Linked DNA regions of Homo sapiens. The protein of the gene in region 2 interacts with the protein of the main gene of each other region in a pairwise test. Each region holds a gene or a part of one and is shown on either strand. Other genes may lie near its edges.

Region 1 (7,025 bases), on a different chromosome or scaffold from region 2:
TTTTTAAATATTGATATGTCAAAATAGTATTTTTGATATACTGGATAATATAAAATATATTATTAAAAATAATTCTACCTGTTTCTTTTTACTTTTTAAAAATGTGTGTAATGAAAAACATGTATTTGTTCTTTGTCACTGATTCCTGGCACAGAGCTCCTGAAACCCTTGGAATTTCCTGAATGATAGGAGTATGTTTTCTTACTCATCAAGAGTCCCCTTCAGTCACTCCTGAGTTTATGTTAATGAGGTAATTCTAGGTGGGCACCTAAACAGCTTCAGGAAGGGGACAGGTTACCAGAAAAACCAACCCAGGTATTAGAGGTTAGAACTTTCAGCCCCACCCTCCAACCTTCAAAGAGGGGAGAGGAGCTGGAGACTGAGTTAATCACCAATTGCTAATGATTTAGTTAAACATGGCTAATGAAACCTTCAGAAAAACCCCTAAATGATGGGGTTCCAGGAACTTCCAGGATGGTGAACACAGCGAAGTGCTGGGAAGGTGGAAGGCCCAGAGAGTGCATGCCAGCCACCCCCAACCAATACCTCACTCTATGGCTGTTCCTGAGTTGCATCCTTTATAATAAACTGGTAAATGCAAGGAAAGTGTTTTCCTGAGTTCTGTGAATCATTCTAGTAAATTACTGAACCCCTGAGGTGATGGTATGGGAACTCGTGAATGTATAGCCAGTCAGTCAGAAGTATGGGTGGCTCTTGGGACTTGTGACTGGCAACGGAAGTGAGCAGCAATCTTGTGGGACTGAGCCTTTAACCTGTGGGGGTCTGTGCTAGCTCCAGGCATTAGCATCAGAATCGAATTGAATTGCTGACACCGGTTGGTGTAGAAGAACTGATGTAATAACACATATTTGGTGTCAGAGAAAAACCACATACTTGGTGTCAGAAGTGGCATCAGCAAAAAGATATCTCAGTGTGGCTACTGAAAAATTTAAATTACATGTGTGGTTTGCATCATAGTTCTACTGGACAGTGCTGATCCAGACAGAAATCTATATATCTTGGCACAGAAAATGACCATGTTATTTTATGAAATAAGAAAATACAAGCTACAAACACACATGTATAGTATGTTCACATTTTAGTAAGGGGATCACATATTTGTGGAAGTTAACACAAAGTTAACTGCAGTTATGTTTTACAATAAACAATAGACACCTATTATTTGTTATGATCAGCATTAATCCACAAAGCATCCCCTCATTGTGAGATCACGTTCCAGGGCTCACATGCGTAAGAGCACTTCACAGGTCCCCAGGACCATTAATACACAATGTTTTTCCCAGGTCCTGTCCCTCCAAAATTAAAGCAAATTCTATATCTCAAGTCATTCACTAGTCAACTGACAAAAGAACACAGCTAAATGTTTTATTAAAAGCGAAAAAAAAAAAAGTCTTAGAAAAGGAAGGCATAAACCAAGACTAACCTCTAGGTAGGTTCTGGGAACAAGACCTTCATTTCCTTTGGCATCCTTAGCTATCCACCAACCATCAGGTTTTTTTTCAATTACAAGGAGAATTTCCCCTTTCTTAAAGCAAAACAAAGTAAACCATTTTAAATAAAATTCAATAATCATGAGTATATGTCAATACCAATGATTCAAAATATGTGCTGAAAAAAAGGCAAAATCTTTTTTTAATCCAATATTTATCCTAAGGTTTATCAAAAGCTTCCCTATCACCCGACCCCTATGTATTCTGCCTAACTCACCTAAAACCATAAATGTGACATAGTTTAATGAATCATTCCTTTTGGTTACCTAACATACACTTGAGCCATTTATGCAAATGGGAACCATTTTTCACAATCATTTTTAAGGCCCCATACTTATTCCAAAAATTCAATTACTGCGTAAAATATTTTTGAATGTTTTAATATCTCTGGAAAAGTGTCTTTCAGAAGCAGCATATAAATTCCCAAAGAATATCAATTCCATTAAAGTTAAACCCTATTTTTGAGCAAAAATAGTATTTACTGAATATAATTACCCACTTAATTCACCAGATATGTTTTGAATAACACTCACTCATTTATAAAAATAAAATTCATCTTTGAAGACAAAAGCATTTCCACCACTAAGGACACTACAAAAGCAAACACTTAATTAAAATATACATTATTGTCTAATATTGATACCATTTTCCAGGAGAATTTGAAAAAAAAATCTATAAATCAAACCATATAATTATTTGCATAATATTCTTATGTATTTTATTATTAATCAGTTACTAAACTTTGAAGTTTAATATAAGAACTAAAATTCATATATTCACTTAAATTTCTTTGGCTCATTTCTCTAGCAGAAAACACAGGCTCAAAATCACAACTTTAAAAATCACAACTTTATTGTTCTGTCCCACCTGCCACTTATTTATGCCCAGGCCAACCAAGCATGGATGTAAGCCCCTCTCATATCTAAGCTAACAGGAAAGACTGCTACAAAATGGCAGGAAGTGCTCCCTTCTACCTCCACCTATGGACATTGCCTAACTCACTTGAATGAATTTATACATGACATTCAATAACAAATTATAAAATTTTACCCCTAAATTAGGAATTCTCAACATTAAAGCTACTTTCAAAAATCTTTAGAAGAGGTAACTTTAGTAACACAATCTCATATTACTACTGCTTGTAAATTGTAATTATTACTTATTTAAATAGATTGTTATAAAACTGCATTTTAAGAATCTGTAATACAGGTGTACAGGCAGAGTTTTCTTATTCTGTTAGGTATGGACATCGACCCTTAGGTTAGGTTTCAGTCTTATTCTACCTACCTTAAATGTAAGATCTCCAACTTGCTGAGCAGTAAAATCTCCAACAGCGATGTATTCTTCACCGGTTGACCATTTGTGAGATTCATTTTCCTCTTTCTCTTCCTCTTCCTCCTCTGCATCTTCTTCCTCCCCACCACTGTCTTCACTATCTTCACTTTCACTTTCTTCCTCTTCTTCAGTAGGTGCCCCAACTCTACAAAAAGTGTTTCTGAGTAGGACTACTTGAAATAATATACAAGAACAGACCAGCTATGAGTGTAACTTCTACATATACATGAATATCCCATATTTGGAGCTGGCAAATAAAAGAAATAAGGGAAAATACAAAGAACAGTTTCTACCATCTAGCTAAGACCGTGTGCCTGGAGAGACTGAGGCGGAGAGGGAGCTGAGTCATGTATGTGAGATGGCAGAGCATCACTGGACTTGAGGCCAGGAGACTCCGAATTCAAGTCTTGGATTCATCCATTCAGAAAATGCTGTTGAAGCATTATTATGAAGTACTTAGAGCATAGGCTCTGCTAAATTTAAATTCTGGCTCTATTCCCTCTTTGCTGGGTGACCTTGAGTAGGCTTCTTTTAAGCTCTCCATTTCTCATTGGTAAAGTGGAGATAATAATAGAACCTGCCTTCTAAGATTGTCATGAGGATTAAGATGAGTTACTACTTGCAAAGTGTTTAGAACAGTGCTTGCCCATAGCAAGCTTTCCATAAAAGTCAGTTATGATGATGACACTGATGCTGTAGGTCAAGTTCCGTGTCAGAGAGATACACAGTGGACACAAAGGTAAACCAGACATGATTCCCCATCCTCAAGGAGCTTGCAGTGAGACAATCTAGAAAATGGAGAATTATAAAATAGTGCAATAGGTACTAGAGTAGAGGTATACACAGGATACTAAGAAATCAATCACACAAGAGGGACACCTAACCCAGGTTGCACGAATGGGAATCATAAAAGGCTATAATTAGGTCTTGAGAGATGATATGGAATTAATCAGGTAAAATGGGAGTAGAAAGGAAGGGCAGGGAGAGGAGAAAGGAGATTTAAGATTAGGAAACATCAAGTAGCTCATGAATGGTAGGGCAAGGCTTAAGGAAAATGAGTGAGAGTTGAGGCTGAAAAGAGGTACGCGGAATGTAGCCCAGGTGAGCTTTACCTTTAAAGTCGCCCCTAAAAATGAGTAGGGGAAGGACATGATATGATTCCCACTTTAGAAAGGAGACAAAGGTATAATGTGGGGAACAGATTAGAAGAAAGGCTAAAGGTGAGGGTGGCTGTTGAAAGTGAGAAGTGACAACACTATGAACTAAGAAAACAGCATAGGGATGAAGAGAAAGGAGGTGAATCTGAGGGTGAGGAAGAGAGAAATGCCAAAATAATGTTAGCTTGGGCACGTCACTAAATCTTTCTGAATTTTATTTACTCATTCAACATTCAGCAAAGTTTAAATTTTGGGGAGCACCTACTGTGTGACAGACACTATGTGCTTGGGCTATAACAATGAACAAAACCAAGATCTTTGCCCTCCTAAAGCTTACATGAGAGAAGCTTATCTTTAAAATGGGAAAACAATACTTAGACTAATGCAAATGAACATCATTAACTATAAAACTAGTCAACTACAAGATTTTCTCTGGAATAAAAAGGAATATTAGCTGAACTTTGTTTAAAATAATGGTAGGACACTCTTATACCACAATGATCTAAAACATAAACAGGGATGTAACAACCATTTTTATACCACAAGACTAAAAAATCCATAAAATGTCATATTGATTTTCAACGCGTCTCTTTCCTTCTTTAGGAGATATTTTGCACATATTTTATATGGGTCAATTATTCTAAAATGTTGCCGAAAATAATGTGAACTTGATAACGGTTTTTCCCCTTCATTAATGTAGTGAATTTCAATGATTGATTTTTTAATGTTAAGCCAACCTCACACTCTGGAACAAATTCCACTTGGTCATGATGTATTACCCTTTTGAAATGCCTCTAGATTTTACTTGCTAATATTTTATACTGAGTTTGTGCATGTGTTCATGAGGGCCTTGCAATTTTCTTCTAGTGTTCTTGTCATGTTTTGATATCAGTGTTATTGAAAGCTTATAAAATGATTTGAAAGTGTTTCTTCTTTGTTCTCTGGAATGATTTTTTAATATTGGCACTATTTCTTTCTTAAATGTTTACAATAAATTCACCAGTAAAGCCACCTGAGAGTTTAATCTGTGGAAAGGCTTTTAATTACAGATTCAACTTCTTTAGTAAATATTTTAGTAGAACTTTTAAGATTTTCTGTTCATCTTGTGTCAATTTTAGTACATTTTCTTTTTAAAGAAACTAATTTTATCTAAATTTCAAACTTATTCACACAAGTTGTTCATAGTCTTTTCATAGTATCTTTTTAATGCTTGTGGAATCTGTATTGATTTTTTTTCTCTCTCTCTTTTCTTGATCAGTAATGCTAGCAGCTTATCCATTTAATTAATTTTCCAAAAACCAGTTTGGCTTTGTTGATATTGCCTACTGTATGTCTGTTTATTGTTCACTGTTTTCTGCTTTTATTTTTATTATTTCTTTCCTGCTCTCCTTGGGTTTGTTGTCCTTTTTCTGGCCCCTAAAGTTGGATGTTTTAGTAATTGATTTTCAACTTTTTTTTCAAACTATACATTTAAAGATATAAATTTCTGGCCAGGTGTGGCGGCTCACACCTGTAATCCCAGAACTTTGGGAGGCTGAGGTGGGAGGATTGCATAAGCCCATGAGTTCAAGACCAGCCTGAGCAATATAGTGAGACCCTGCCTCTACAAAAAATTTAAAAAATTTGCCAAGCGTAGTGGCACACGCCTGTAGTCTCAGCTACTCAGGGAGGCGGAGGTGGAGAGGATCACTAGAGCCTGGGAGGTGGACGTTGCAGTGAGCCAAGATTGCACCACTATACCCAGTCTGGGTAACGGAGACCCTGTCTCCAAAACAAACAAACAAAAGATAGAAATTTTCCCTTTAAGCACTATGCTGGTTGCAACCCAGTCATTTTATTATCATTCCAAATATTTTCTAATTGCCACTGTTATATTTTCTTTGACTCACAGTTTATATAGAAGTGTGTGACAATTTGCAAACATGTAGTAATTTCTTTTCTTTTTCTTTTTCTTTTTTTTTTTTTTTGAGACGGTGTCTCATTCTGTCACCAGGCTGGAGTGCAGTGGTATGATCTTGGCTCACTGCAATCTCCACCTCCCGGGTTCAAGCGATTCTCCTGCCTCCGACTCCCGAGTAGCTGGGACTACAGGCATGCACCACCATGCCCAGCTCATTTTTGTATTTTTAGTAGAGATGGGGTTTCACCATGTTGGCCAGATGGTCTCTATCTCTTGACCTCGTGATTCGCCCGCCTCAGCACAGGCGTGAGCCACCGCACCTGGCCACATGCAGTGATTTCTAATTATTTTTCTGTCATTGGGTTTTAATGTCATTCCAAGTCATCAAAGAAAATATATATATATTCTACATAATTTCAAACTCTTGAAATTTGGTGACAATTACTTTATGGTCCAATATGGTTCATTTTGGTTAATGTTACAGATGCACTGAAAAGAATATGTATTTACATAATACATACTTAGGTGCTGTGTTCTACACATATATAGTCATGTGCTGCACAACAATGTTTCAGTCAACAATGGGCCACATATACAATGATGGCCCCATACATATAATACCATATTTTTACTGTACATTTCCTATTTTTGGATATGTTTAGATACACAAATACACCATTGTGTTACAATTGTGTACAGTATTCAGCACAGTAACATGCTGTACAGGTTTGTAGCCTAGGAGCAACATGCTATACTATAACTATATAACCCAAGTGTATGGTAACCTACACCTTCTAGGTTTGTGCAAGTACATTCTATGATGTTTGTACAATGATGAAATCACTTAATGACTCATTTCTCAGAACATATCCCTATCACTAAGAAAGGCTTGACTATACATGTAATTAGATCACGGTGGTTAAGGATTGTGAATTATCTAGCTCTGTTTTAGTTCTGGCAACTTTTGCTTTATACATTTGAACCCATATTATTAAATGTATACTCATTTAGGAAGATTTTTTTTCCTACTGAATCGACCCTTTCTTTTATCATTATGAAATGTCCTTTCTTAAATAGTAAATTACTTTTAGCCTTAAATATCTGATATTATTGTAACCGTAT
Region 2 (7,848 bases):
ATATGATAGTTCCAAGAAAATAAAAAGCCAATGAGAATCCTGTGAGCCTACAATATAAAGTAAAATCAGGGAGATAGGTGAAAAACTGGGAGATAGAAGCATTACAGAAGCAAACCCAAGTTTTAAAGGAGATGTTGCCTATATACTGTGTGGCATCAAAAGGGGCTGGAGGTTTTGAAGAAAGTCCACTGAATCTGCAAGTAGGAAGTCACGTGTGTCAAAGCTGTTTATAGAGGGGCAGAAACTTAGCAGGCTGGGGCTAAGGAATGAATGGAAGGTGACACCTGTAGAAGGGACATGTAGACAATTCTTTACAGAATTCTTCCAACTGTCTTCCCATCACCCCCAAAGGCAGTGACATGAGACAGTAACTCTGAGGGACAAAAACACTGTGGAAGGATTATGCTTTTTGTTTTAAGATTGTTTCCACGCCGCTATCACCTTTCCCTTAAAAAAAAAATCATCATCTACACAGCAACTAGTGTAATTTTCTAAAATTCAAATGTGATGGTGTCGTTTCTTCGCTTAAAATTCTTCACTAGCTCCCAATCGCACATTGAAAAAAATATCAAGTCCTTACCAGTGAGGTCCAAGGCCATTTATGAAATGTCCCCTTCACACATCCACTGTGTTCCAGACATGTGAAACTACCTGCAGGCCTTCACGTGTGCCAAGTTCTCTCTTGCTTTTGTATCATTACACACATATCCCCTCCCCTGAAAAATGTGCTTCCTCCTTTGTCTCTCTAACAAACTCCTCACTATCCTTTAAAGGCAAATGATATCTTCTCTAGAGAGCATTCTCACCTTGAAGGGCATTTAAGAACTTCTCTTCTGTGCTTCCAGGGTGCCTTAATCTTTGTAGCTCCCTCTACCTCAACCTTGAATTTTCACCCTGGTAAAATGTTCTGTAACTCCCACCAAACTGCTAGCTTTGGAGGACCAAGCCAATGCTCTCTTATAGTTATGTATCTGCCACTATGAAAGAAAAGAGAGGAGAAGAAGAGAGAAGCGAAGTGAAGAGAAGCAAAAGCAAAGCGAGTAAAAAAGACTCAGGCTTGAGCTCTAGTGTCACCACTTACTGATGTGTGGCCTTGGGCAAGCTACTTAATTTCTAATCCTTGGTTTTTCCTTGTCTGGGAATTTAAAATGGCACCTATTTTAGTACTGTAAGGAGAAGAGAAAATACCAAAAAGCAAAGTAATCAGTACATTGCAATAAAATTACTTTATGTCCATTATTATTGTATTAAAAATAAGTAAATAATTACAAATAAAATATATAAATCATATACTTATTTACTATTAACAGCTTAATACACAACTAAACTAATAAATACTAATATTATGTAATGATAACACAGCAAATACAGTACAGAAATCATCTCTAATTTTTTTTTTTTGGAGACAGAGTCTCGCTCTGTTGCCCAGGTTGGAGTGCAGTGGCACAATCTCAGCTCACTGCTGCCTCCGCCTCCTGGGTTCAAGCAATTCACCTGCCTCAGCCTCCCTGGTAGCTGGGACTACAGGTGTGGGCCATCACACCCAGCTAATTTTTGTATTTTTAGTAGAGATGGGGTTTCACCAACATTGGCCAGGCTGATACTGAACTCCTGACCTCAAGTGATCCACCCACTTTAGCCTCCCAAAGTGCTAGGATTACAGGCGTGACCCACTGCGCTCAGCCATCTCTAAATCTTAATATGTACTACAGCAAACATGATAGAATTAACGGCTAATATTTGATTAGTAACCTCTGCAAAAAATCAGATAGGACTTTAAAAGACACCTCTGATTCTTATATATTCCATTATTTTACAACTTCTCCCTCACAAACCCTTTCACAGGAGCGTCTAAGAGATATTACACAGGAAAATTAAATGGATTACATTTCATCTCATTTTATTTTACAGACAACCTGATTATCAGCCAATATGTGGCTCAATATCATTGGGAGAAAAAACTGAGAGGCTTGATAATTCGCTCCTTAACCAAATGTTATCGCAAGGGAAAAAAAGACAAACAAAAATCCTGTATACAAAATTCAATGAATAAATCAACAAGATTCTTCATAAGTAAACAAGATTCTAACTTCATAAATATTATTCCTCATAAACAAGATTCTAGGTATGGTTTAAAAACACTTTTGGTATTTGAATTTCTTTCAAGCATTCTTTAAAAAATTTCCCAGAGTACTCATAAGAAGCAATCTTCCTCCTAACGCCCAAGCAGTAACAGCAACTGTTAATGCAACAGGTGAAAAAATCGTTGGCATCTCTTTCTCAAAAGAAAGGGGAAAGCTTTATTTTCACAATAGATGTTTTTACAGGAATGCTAAACGCAGCACAACCTTTGATAAGGATTCTTAAATGGTCTACATTTTTGTTCTATTTTTATGCATCTCGAAACAACCCTATTAATATAATTTGGCTCTTATAAATATAACAAATTGATCACCTTTTCTCAGACATAATTAAGAAGGCTTTGACAGGTTGAAGATTCAGCCCCAGGTTGACACTCTAAAAGGAAATAAACACACTCAGTACACATCTGATTTAAAAGCATTTAAATAAGAATCGGGAGTAGGAAAGGCAAAGATTGAATTCTCTATCAGAGCACCATGCTCAACTCTCCGGGGACACGGAGACCAGTGAAAGAAGCGCAAAAGTACGGTGAGGACTCTCAGAAATCGCATTCCCCCGGGACACCCGGCCCACGCTCGTCGGTCACTACGCTATCAGCCTCCGCGCTCTCGGACTCCAGCAGCCCCGACACGCCGCCCAGGAGAGGGCCGGGCAGGCCGAGCACCCCGGCCCGCGCTCCCGCCACCAGCGCACCCATGATGTACTCACGGAGAGGGGTACGCAGAACCGCCCGTCCCGCCGGAGCCGACACCCGGAGCAGTGCAAATCAACTCCCCCAGCCTAGCGGCGCGTGCGCGAAGTGAGGCGGCCACGCAGCCACCTAACCCGCCAGCGACCCGTGTCCTGAAAGCAAGCCGCGGCTCTGTGCCGCAGTGCGGACAGCGCGCCGCCTGCTGACGTCAGCGCCTGCCTACGCCGCCGTTCCCATGGCGACCGATGCGTCCCGCGCTCTAGGCGAAGACCGCGGCCCCGTCCCCGCGCCTCCACCGCCTTCTTCCAGGAGGAGGGGCCGTGCGGCGCCTGCCCGGGGGCCCTCAGGCCGCAGGCGGGCGCGAGCTTCAGGGAACTTAGGGGGCTCCCGCCTCCCCGGCCACGCGAGCGGGAACAGTCTCCTCCACTCGGAGCGGTAAGGGACCCGGAAATGCGCGGGTGCCCCTACAGAGTCTTGAGTTTTCCCCGCCCTCACCTCCGAAAATGCTCTTTTCGCCTTAGAATTGTAGCTAGCGCAGGGAAAAACTGACTGGGCAAAGGAAAACTGGGGAGGCTGTCATGGAAGCCGCCCAGAATAAGAAAATGAATGAATGAGGCAAAGAAACAGATTTGTCACTCCCCACGCGATCGCGCCCACAAAAGAAAACATGGTTTTAAGGCGTGGAAAATGAAGTTGTACTACAGACAAAATTTTAAGAAAAAATTATCCACTGTTCCTTTAGAGCTATCTCCCTGTGTGTGAAAAACAAAACAAAAGTTAAAACGCCATCCTTTTCTACACCTAATGCTCCCTCCCACTTTTCTGATTTCTGCCACAGGCGCCATCTTCAGCTCTGAGTCACCAGGGCTGGAAAAATACTAGATGCGCTACTCGTGGACTCGTGAATACACTCGTGAATACAGGCCATTTCCTGTACCTACAGCCACCCGCTGTAAGCTGTTGCTTCATTTGTACAGTAAGAGTTTATGGAGGCCAGCTTTTCCATTCTTACTGACATTGCCACACCTTACAAACTATATGTCTTGTGCTTCCCTAAATCCTGTGAGGAAGCAACGAGAAAGATTACTAATCCAATGCGTACCGAACTGAGCTGTTCAACTTTCCGTTCTAAACATACTCTCCTAGATTTCTATCTTGCTGTAAGCCACCACAATCCTCCCAGTGTTTTAGTAAGAACAGTAGAGTATCCTAAATGCATCTTATGCCAAAGCATATCCATTCTCTCTTTTTAACTTCCTCAGATGGGCCCTTTACCAGTTCTCTGACTCCAGTTTGACTCTTAAATTCTCCACACTGCTATCAGAATGACCTGACTAAAAATGTAAATCGGATAATGGCACTCTCCTGCTGAAAATTTTTGAAAGGCAATCTGTAAGAGAAAATGATTACTTTGCCTAGGATACAAGATTCTCCATCTCCCTGACTAGTTTCATCTCTCGTTAGCTTCTTGTTCCAATTTTATGCAATATTGAATCATGTGTACCATGCAGTTTTATGCAACATTGAATTATGTGTACCATGAAAAACAATCCATAGCCTTTCACGCCCCGTCCTTACTCATATTGTCCTCTCTTCCTGAAAATTCCTCCTTTTACACTCCTGCATCACAGCCAAATGTTGTCCATCCTTTGAATCTTAAGCAGGTTGACTGACTCCTTCAAACACTCCTACTCCCTATTAGACTTCGGATACTCATTCTATATATTAGACTTTGGATGCTCATTCTATAGTTTCATAGTTTACTTTGTATTTTCTCTATCCCCAGCATCTACCACAGTGTCTATGAAATAGTTGGCATTTCATGAACATTTGTTGAATGAATAATGGATAACATATATTGAGCTCCTTCTAGGAGGTATGCATTGTAGGTGTTTTATGTACTTTTCATCTGTCCTCACAACTGCATTTAAGTACCTGCTTTTCCAAAGGGAAGTTATAACTCTGACTGCTCATTCTTAGTAGGGTGTTAGTTTCAGAATACAATCCCCAGACTAGCGGATGTGTAACCCTGTTATCATCTCTTGCTTCTCCATTTACAGTAGCATGCAGAGGTGCAGTGGGGTGGGGGAGGTCAGGGAATATTTCATAGCAGAAGTGACATTTAAGTAAAGACCAAAATAATGTGTAGAGTTGTCCAGGTTAGGAAGGGTTTCCAGGTAGAAGAAGGTGGCGTATAGTGTTCACTACAAGAAAGTTTGGTATAATACAAGAACTGGAAGAAAAAAAAAAAAAGTTCAAGTTGGCTAACTAAAAGGTAGAGAATGAGACTAGGGGCTTTTGGAGGAGACAAAACAAGAGAGTTAAACAAGCTATGAAGAGACCCAGACAGTATTGGTCAGTGGAATACCACTATAGAATTTTATGGAGTGAAATTTTCAAATTTTAATATCATAAAGATAACTCTGGCTGCAGGGTGGAGAACAGACAGGAAGGAAGCAAATCTAGATCTGGGAATACCATTTAAGATGCCGTTGCTGTAAGCCATGTAAGAGACAAAGGTGGCATGGTCAAGGCTAAGAAAAATCAGAATGGAGAGAAATGGACCAATTTGAGAAATTTTTAGGAGGTAAAAATGTCAGGACTTAGTGATTGATTGGATGGAAGAGTGAATGATAAGAAATAATAAAAAACGATGACCAGCTGTTTTGCCTTCCCCTTGGCAAGTAAAGAGGTGGCAAGCATGAAAGGGGAGTGAGGAAATAAATATGTTGGGTCTAATGGGAGCCAGGTTTCTCACTGACAGAGAAGGACGTTACAAATTGAGAGAGGAAGAATTCCACAGTGACCTTTGTGGTGATGTTGAATTGGAATTGAATATGTCAGTGTCAACTCATAGTTTTCAATATATACATAAACATATGTAAAAATAAATATAGAGGAAAGTATGTCTGTATGTGTGTGCGTATCTATCTATTATGCTCTTCCTAGCTCTATCTGCTGAAAGGGTTTCAGAGTAATGGTATACTAGAAGCAATGAGCACATGTGCCTAGATCTTGGTTTCTGAACAGTATTATTCACTAAAAGTAACTGGGTCCCTTGGAGAAATGGTTGATTTTAGAACAGGAGCCTGGAAAATTCTTGTTGCACCAGAAGTTAAGGAAGTTAATACAGAATGAAGAAACATATCAAAAGGTCACAGAAGCCAGCTTGAAGGAGCCACCACTGGCCACATCTGGGTCAATCTGAGCACCAATATAATGTTAATGGATTATAGTCCGCTAAATAAAATAGGAATATTTGAGCCCATACTAAAATGAATAAATGATTTTTTTGAAAAATCAGGATAAAGAAAAGCTCTGCCTTACATAAAAATGCCAACTAAATGTAATGAATGTAGACAGTGTTATATGTAGAAACATCATTATTTGGCAGTCATGATAGTAACAGTTGATTCAGACTAGAATCATCAGTGTATGCTAAAACTAGAGGGTGAGAGTATTAAGAGACATATAATATTTATATAGTCTCAAAGTATCTCTCCAGCAAATACTTATTAATTACACAGAGAAAAATTAGAAAACTTGACAGTGTAGAAATCTGGCACTGGTGAGCGAAGTTACCATCAGCAGTCATGAGACAAATCAGCATCGTGTATGTCCTGGTTAGAGGCACTTAGAATACACTTCTGTGACATTCCTGCCAAAAATGTGTAATCCGAATCAATCGTGAGGAAAAAATCAGACAACCCAAATGTCCCAAATTGAGGGACATTCTACAAAATAATAGACCTGTACTCTTCAAAGATCAAGGTCATGAAAGACAAAGGAACAACTAAAGAACGTTTTTAGATTGAAGGAGAATTAAGATACATGACAATTAAGTGGAATACATGATTCTGAATTGAATCCTTTTGCTATAAGGATATTATTGGGACAACTAACAATTTGAATGGGGTCTCTGGATTAGATGGTAGTATTTTAACAATATTAATTTCCTGATTTTGATGACTATAGTGACATAGATATTTTTGGTTTTAGAAAATACATATTGAAGTATTAAAGGTGATGAGGCTTCATATCTGCAACCTATTCAAATGGTTCAGGAAAAAAGTATACATAAATACTGTAAATAAATATAAACATAAATAATATACATAAAGAAAATGATAAAGCAAATGTTAACAGGGAATTTGGGCGAAAGCAGAAGTTCTTTATACTATTCTTGCAATTTTTCTGTAAGTTTATAATTATTTTAAAACTATAAAAGAAGTTTGAAAGGTGCCGAGGTTTCTGGCTCAGGTAACTGGGTGGAGAATGGCTAATCAGTTAACGACAAAAAATCAGGAAGAGCAAGCATGGAGGAAAAGATGTTTAGTTGCAATGGGATGTATGGAGTGGGATGTTCAGCAGGCAGTTGAGTATATACTAAACATATTAATGAGCCCCATTCAAACTGAATAAAGCAGATATGTTGCTTTAGCTCTCATTAGTCGAGAGTGCAAGACCAAGGGCACTCCGCTATCCTAGGAGAGGCAAACAATTAAGAGTGGTAGTATGGTAATAATTCTAAAAATTGGCTGAGTATCCATGAAAAAAATTGTGTGTATATATATATATATACACACACATATATGTATAAACATATATACACACATATATGTATAAATATATATCCACATATATGTATATATATACACACATATATGTATATATACACACATATATGTATAAATATATATACACATATATGTGTATGTGTGTGTGTGTGTGTATATATATATGTATGTATATAAATTGAACCGTTTAGGAATAAAATAGATTTAGGGTATTCGACACATTTAATACATAATGAATAGTGAATTTCTTGAATAATATAATGCCTAAATGTGACTGATATGCAAAATATTTAAATCCCTTACAGGATGTGCATTTACCAATCAGAACAGATGTTGGCTTTACTGCTTGTATTAGTTTTCTGTATTAGTTTGCTTGTATTAGTTTGCTGGGGCAGCCATAACAAAGTACCACAGAAATTTATATTCTCACAATTCTGG

Evidence for each region. The genes of interacting proteins can lie anywhere in the genome.
Region 1: the proteins of AHI1 (region 2) and NPHP1 interact in binary tests that used the Homo sapiens proteins (3 or more experiments, as listed by UniProt).

Annotation. Positions count from the first base shown.
Region 1 is NC_000002.12:110,167,008-110,174,032, forward strand, and holds part of NPHP1 (nephrocystin-1), read right to left. Parts: intron 2,992-7,025; coding exon 2,799-2,991; intron 1,547-2,798; coding exon 1,445-1,546; intron 1-1,444. UniProt on the Homo sapiens protein: Together with BCAR1 it may play a role in the control of epithelial cell polarity. Involved in the organization of apical junctions in kidney cells together with NPHP4 and RPGRIP1L/NPHP8. Does not seem to be strictly required for ciliogenesis.
Region 2 is NC_000006.12:135,494,733-135,502,580, forward strand, and holds the start of AHI1 (jouberin), read right to left. Parts: upstream 3,009-7,848; 5' UTR 2,851-3,008; intron 2,518-2,850; 5' UTR 2,456-2,517; intron 1,167-2,455; 5' UTR 1,082-1,166; intron 978-1,081; exon of another isoform or gene 807-977; intron 1-806. UniProt on the Homo sapiens protein: Involved in vesicle trafficking and required for ciliogenesis, formation of primary non-motile cilium, and recruitment of RAB8A to the basal body of primary cilium.